2 linked regions of the Homo sapiens genome follow. The protein of the gene in region 1 interacts with the protein of each later gene in a pairwise test. Each region holds a gene or a part of one and is shown in the gene's direction. Other genes may lie near its edges.

Evidence for each region.
Region 2: the proteins of GSTZ1 (region 1) and ZMYND12 interact in binary tests that used the Homo sapiens proteins (3 or more experiments, as listed by UniProt).

The regions. Positions count from the first base shown.
Region 1 is NC_000014.9:77,327,536-77,331,035, forward strand, and holds part of GSTZ1 (maleylacetoacetate isomerase), read left to right. Parts: coding exon 1-17; intron 18-376; coding exon 377-502; intron 503-1,587; coding exon 1,588-1,666; intron 1,667-2,219; coding exon 2,220-2,272; intron 2,273-2,774; coding exon 2,775-2,824; intron 2,825-3,500.
Region 2 is NC_000001.11:42,449,523-42,453,022, reverse strand, and holds part of ZMYND12 (zinc finger MYND domain-containing protein 12), read left to right. Parts: intron 1-2,963; coding exon 2,964-3,105; intron 3,106-3,500. UniProt on the Homo sapiens protein: Required for sperm flagellum function and male fertility.

The DNA.
Region 1 (3,500 bases):
TCACCATTCACCAGTCAGTGAGTGCAGGGCCTGGGGGAGGGCCCTCATGAGAGCAGTGCCCTGAATGAGAGCGCCTGACATCTCTTCCTCGCCTGTGTACAGTCAAGGTGCCTAGCACATAGGAGAGGCTCAATACAAGACTCGTGGGGAGGGTGCGAGGTTATTTAGGAAAATAAGGGAAGATTCAAGCACATGGAGAACCAAGTTCTGCATGATAAGGTCCAAAAAGGCTTATAGGGCTTGAGCTGAGCAGAAGCAGGGGGGAAGAGGTGTAGTGATGGTGCTGGAAGAGGAGAAGGAGGAGTTTGCTGGCCCTGTCCCCTCTGGTCCAGGGGTCCTGGGCCCTCTCCCTGCCTCACTGCTCCCCTCTGGACAGCTGGCCATCATTGAGTATCTAGAGGAGATGCGTCCCACTCCGCGACTTCTGCCTCAGGACCCAAAGAAGAGGGCCAGCGTGCGTATGATTTCTGACCTCATCGCTGGTGGCATCCAGCCCCTGCAGGTGTGGCACTTGTACACTTGCACCCTTGCACACCTGACACACTCTTACACTCACACATTGGCTGTGAGCTGCCCAGTGTGGGGGCGGGGGTGTCAAGGGAGGGAGGGGGATTCTCAGGGCCTCTGACCTGGACCATGTGAAAGAAGGGGGTGAAGATCGCAATCTCAGAATTCAGCCCCCCAGCGGGTCCCCCGCTGCGTTCCGAGAAGCTCTAGTTTCCAAGGACGCATGTACAGGTGCTTGGGGTGGGGAAAGGGCCAGAATGGCAGGGGAGAGACTGAGCAGGCCCCAGTCCAGGCCTCCTGCCTTTAACCAGAGCAGCTTCCGTTTCATCTGTGCTATCTCAGTCATATACTGGGATACTTGTAGGATTTTATTTTTTAAGTGTCACTGTTAAAACAGACAACTAAGTATTAAAAACAGTTCATCTGTGCCAGCTTCTACTCTGAATGAGGAAATAGCCCCAGAAAGGTGGAGTGACTTAGGAGTCCCACAGGTAGGTCATAACAAAGTGGGGACTAAGTCAGAATCCCTGCATGCCTATGCCCTCTACCCGCATGTCGCTTTAACAAAGGATGTTGGAGCAGACAGACATCTCCATTTTATAATGAGGAAACAGAGGGAAAATGGCTCCAGGGGTGCCAAGATGGAGCCAGGCTGGAAATCTCTGGAAGCCGGTCTTGTGGACCTCCCTCATCCCAGCCCCACCCTCTTTCACACTCCCTCTCCTCACAAGGGACCATGCAAGGGAGAAGTGAGGGAGACAGGCCTCGAGTTGTGGGCACACCTGCCACAGCCATGGCCGCGTCCTGTGTCACATGAATAGGGATTCTTGCACATCTCTGACAGAATCACGTGGCTTTTTGAGGCCACTGGGGCAGCCTGCAAAGGTGGCTGCTGGGATGGCTACCTCCCTCCAACCTCAGGGCCCTTGGTTGAAGGAAGGGGCTCATGGAGCCTGGGGGAGAAGGGATAGACATCCAGCCAGGGGCAGATGGGAAGTGAACTTCCCTGAGGGGGTTTGGCGAAGGGGTAGCCCCCACCCAGCTGTCAGCGCAATCACAGATTTTCTTTGGGCTGCACAGAACCTGTCTGTCCTGAAGCAAGTGGGAGAGGAGATGCAGCTGACCTGGGCCCAGAACGCCATCACTTGTGGCTTTAACGGTGAGTCCTCACCTCTGTGAGCTGCCCCACAGTGGCCTCTTAGAGGTATGGCCCTCGCACACAGGGGCCTGGGTATCTGAACCAGCCTCCCAGGCTGCTTTGGGCCTGACAGTTGCATGGATGAGGGCAGGACTGGGGAGGCAATGGGCTGGGTGGGCATCCAGACCTTAGCTCCAGCACTTCTGGGAACCTCGGTCCCTGAGCCCACAGCCCTTCATAGCTGGATGGCCCAACTTCAGCTTCACTGCCTACTCCAGCTGGGAAACCAAGGCCAGCACAGCGCCAGCCATCAGAGTGAGAGCTGTCACCGTGGCCAGTGGCAGGGCTTGTCCACTCGAGTGGGGAAATGGTGATTGTCTGTGCGGAGCCTCAGGAAACAGCAGCTCATCCCTAACAGCTCTCTCGAGACCTGGCTGCCACATTCTCACCAGCAGCCATGCCCAGTCTGTCACTCAGTTGGGCGCCCATTTCATAACTATGGAGGCCAAGGCCCAGAAAGCTTTGTGTCCCCTCCCTGCGCCCAGAATAAGATGTTTATGTGGCCTCCCCACAGCCCTGGAGCAGATCCTACAGAGCACAGCGGGCATATACTGTGTAGGAGACGAGGTAAGCTGTCCCCAGACCTCCCCAGGCCCAGCCACAGTGGCTGCCTCCCTCATGCTGACCTCCCTCAAGCTCAGAGCTTCCTGAGAAGGCGTCTGCAGGGGGATCTCTGTGCCATGGGGCACTCCTCAGCTCACTCCCACTAAACCGTCTTAAGAGGGAGTTACTCAAGGTAGAAGACTGGCTGTGAGAGGATGAGGCGGGCCAGCATCAGTTGAGGGATTGTGCTAGATGATGTCTGCGCAGTCAAGGCAATCCATCTTCTCTGGCCCTCTCAACCCACAGAGTTGGTTGTCAGGGCAACTGGAGCATGGCCTGGGAGGGCACTTCAGCTCCGGGGGACAGACTCATGCAGGCCTAGGGCAGACAAGAATTGGAGGTGGGATGGGTGAAAGAGCCGAAGCAGATTGTTGGTACCCCCAGTAGAGTCGCAGTGGACACACCCAGTCCAGCCACTGACTCTGGGGTATGCACCCTGATGGGAACCCACCGGGACCTCTTTCAGGTGACCATGGCTGATCTGTGCTTGGTGCCTCAGGTGGCAAATGCTGAAAGGTAAGAGAGAGCCCCGCCACCCTCCCTTCTCGTGGCTCTGCCCACAGTCAGGCCCCACTCAGCTGGCGAGATAGCATCTCATGCAGACGCTTCGCCAACCAGCCAAGGAGCCCACCATGCCAGGCCACATAGCCACTTCTGCCTGGAAGAGGGCAGAAGAAATTGGGGCAGTGCTCCTACTACGCCCACCACAGCCCAGATGAACCTGTATAGATAGCCCCAGCTCCTAAGAGGAGGTGGCTCACCTGGTGGACCCCCAAGAGCACCTGCCTGATGTCCTCAAATGTGGTGTGTCTGTGAGCAGTAGTGAGCTCTACCTCTGCATCCTTCCGTGAACCCTTTGGTAGGGCACAAATGAGCACCTCTCTGGAAGGCATCATGCTAGGCGTTAGGGATATGGAAACGTATGGCACATTCCCTGCCCCCAAGAAGCTTACAACATGGGGGAAGAGAGTCTGTATATATAAATGCCTAGCACTGGGCCTTACACATAGCAGGTTCACAAAGAAATAGGAACAGTAGGTAACAGATGCCAAATGATACTGCACAAGACCTACCCATCCCCTGTGAATAAGGGCTGCCCCATCGTCCTTCCCTGGACAGCTCCCTCGACCTCATCCAGCCCTGCCTCTCTGCTCCCCCTGCTGCATCAGGGCAGTCTCCCTGTGTCCCTGAA
Region 2 (3,500 bases), on another chromosome or scaffold:
AGAAAGTCAGTCTGAATTTGTGAAAGTTTTTTTCTGCAAAAGAATTTTTTTCCTGATTATAATTGCAATTCATGCTCACTGCAGAAAACCTGAAAATATAAAAAATCAAGAAGAAAAATAAGCCATAGTCCCACAACCCAGGGATTAATAACCTGAAATTTTGGTGAATTTCCTTCTTTTCTCTGAATACATTTATTTTATATATTGTGTGTAATCTTGTGCATATTGCTCTATAGTGGATTATGACCATTCTCAGAGAATAGCACATTTTTATTTACTTTAGAGACACAGTAGAACTTTTATTTTTTTATTATTTTTTTGAGACGGAGTCTTGCTCTGTCACCCAGGCTGGAGCGCAGTGGCACCATCTTGGCTCACTGCAACCTCTGTCTCCCGGGTTCAAGCAATTCTCTTGCCTCAGCCTCCCAAGTAGCTGGGATTACAGGGATGCGCCACCACGCCTGGCTAATTTTTTTGTATTTTTAGTAGAGACGGTGTTTCACCATATTGGTCAGGCTGGTCTCGAATTCCTGACCTTGTGATCCGCCCTCCTCGGCCTCCCAAAGTGCTGGGATTACAGGACAGTAGAACATTTTTAAGAAAAGGTAATTTTATGGAAGTACATACTAAAACATTGGTGACAAGTAAAAGAGACTTCAGTACCATAGGTTTGCATGAATTTAAATGTCTTTAGTCAGGGCGTACATTCTGTAATTCACTACAAATACTATTGCTTCCTGTTCTTGAATACCACTTCACCATTCGTTTTCTTCTCCTGGCCAGTGACGGCATTTAAATTTGCGCTTCATATGTCAAACAAAAGGAAAAATTATTGCAAAAAATATTGCAGATCACTAAGAAAACAAACAGTGAAGTGGTATTCAATAATAGGAAGCTATAGGATCAGTGGTGAATTGTAGAATGAATGCCCTACCTAAAGATATTCAAATTCAGCTTAAAAAAAAACATGATAATAGCCAAACAAAACATGTGGCTCACAAGCTACTTAATTGTGAGCCCTGATTGAAAGCATTTATCCATTCCTACTTTATCCCTGACCCTGTGTTAGGTGTTACAGGTGGGACAGATCAATAAGCAGGGAGCCCGCAAATATATAAATAAAGCTCACTTTATTTAGAAAGGCAAGATATGTTAGTGGCTCTCAGTGGAACAAAAGTTCAGGCATCTAAGTTAACATTTCCATTGCTTACAAGCCCCACTTGATAAATTCCCTGTGGAACTCAGCTATATCCTGGCTAAGTGCTTTTATTGATCTGTTTATAATAATTCTCTACCTCCCCAAAAACATTTTAAATGGTTTCTGTCATTTCTTTGGTAGCAGTCACAACTTGTAAAGAATATACTTTAATTGCATTTCTATTGTCCAAGAAGGTGGCAATATTGTCCAAGAAGGTGCTTGAACATGGCTATATATTGTCTGTGGCTGCTTTTGTGCTACAACAGCAGAGTTGAGTAGTTGCAACAGAGATCCTATAGCTCTCAAGCCTAAAATATTTATCTGACCCTTTACAGAAAAGCTTTTCTGATCCCTCCTCTAGATTATTGTTACCTGTTTTGAAATATGTATAAATGGAATCAAACAGTTAACTTACATTTAAGTGAAAATGTGTAATAAGCAATAGAAATGCAAAAACCCATGACTATGCATCTAACAACAGAGCCTCAAAATACATGCAGCAAAAACAGACAGAACTGGGGAGAAAAATAGACAATTTAATAATAATGGTTGAAGACTTCAATATCCTACCTTCAGTGATGAACAGAACAACTAGATGAAAGATCCAGTATCCCACTCTCAGTAATGAATAGAACAACTAGATAGAAGATCAAATATCCCACTTTCAGTAATGCATAGAACAATTAGACAGATCAGCAAGGAAATATAAGACTTGAATCACGCTATAAACCAACTAGACCTAACAGGTATCTGTAGAACACCATTCAATAACATGAGAATGCCTATTCTTCTCTAGTGCGTATAGAACATTATTCAGGATAGAACATATATTAGACCATAAAATAAATCTCAATAAATTTATAGAGATTGATTTCATACAGAGTATGTTCTCCACCTACATGGAATGAAATTAGTAGTCAATAACAAGGAAATTTGGTAAATTTACAAATATGTAGAAATAACACACTCTTAACCAATGAGTCACAGAAGAAATTACAAAGGAAATTAGAAAATGCTTTGAGATAAATGAAAACAAAAACAACATACTAAAACTTAGATGCTGGCAAAGCAGTACTCAGAGGTTACTGTATGAATTTAGTACTCATATGAATTTATACTAATATACATTACATTGAAAAGAAGATCTCAAATCAGTAACCTAGCATTTCATCTTAAGAAACTAGAAAAAGAAGAGCAAACTAAAACATATTTATAAACTCCTTTATGCACAGCCCTGTGTTGGGTATAGACACAAGCTAGCAGAAGAAAGGAAAATTAAAGATTATAGCAGAGATAAAACAGAGAATAAAGAAACTACAGAGAGAACTGATGAGACCAAAAGTTGGCTCCTTGAAAAGACCAACAAAATTGACAAACCTTTAGCTAGGTTGACTGGCCTAGAAAAGAAGATTCAGATTACTAAAATCAGAAATGAAAGTGAGGACATTACTACCAACCTTGCAGAAATAAAAGAGATTATAAGAGAACACTATGAGCAATTGCATGCCAGCATCCCTGTGTGACTTCAGAATGTGAATGTGTGCCTGCAGAAACAACATACTCTCCAATCCCAACACAGTTTATACATCATCAAATAACCACATGAAAGGAAAGAGATTTGAGTCTCAGAAATGGCTTTGAGCTCCCTGCCTGGTTTGTATTTGGCTTACTTTTCTGGTGTCTAGGGATAGGCCAGTAGGAGGGTTAATGGAATCTTAAGTCATGCCAAATATAAAGATCATAAAGTCTATGTTTCCGTTGTCAGTGGGGTGGTACATCAGAAGGCTGACTGGGACAGCATCCATGAGAAAATATGTCAGCTCTTGATTCCACTGCGCACTTCCATGCCCTTCTACAATTCAGAGGAAGAACGGCAGCATGGCCTGCAGCAGCTGCAGCAGCGGCAGGTAGGGCCTACGGCACTTTCCAAGGTTAAGTCGTAGGTGCGGTGAAGCTGCCCAAGACAAGGCTCGAACTGTGTTGGGATCACTAAATTGTAACCTCACGGAGGGCAGAGACTTTGTTTTATATCTTTTTAAGTCCTCAACACCATCCAGTCTGTTGTTTTCCACATTTACTAAATACTTACTGTATTAGTCTGCTAGCACTGTCACAATCAAATATCACAAACTGGGTGGCTCAAACAGCATACATTTATTTCCTCACAGCTCTGGAGGCTGGGAAGTCCAAGATCAAGGGGTCAGCAGGTTTGGTTTCTTCTGAGGCCTCTCTTCCTGGCTTTCAGATGGCTGCCTTCCTACAGTGTCTTCACATGGTCCTTTGTGTGCAAGCATGCCTGGTA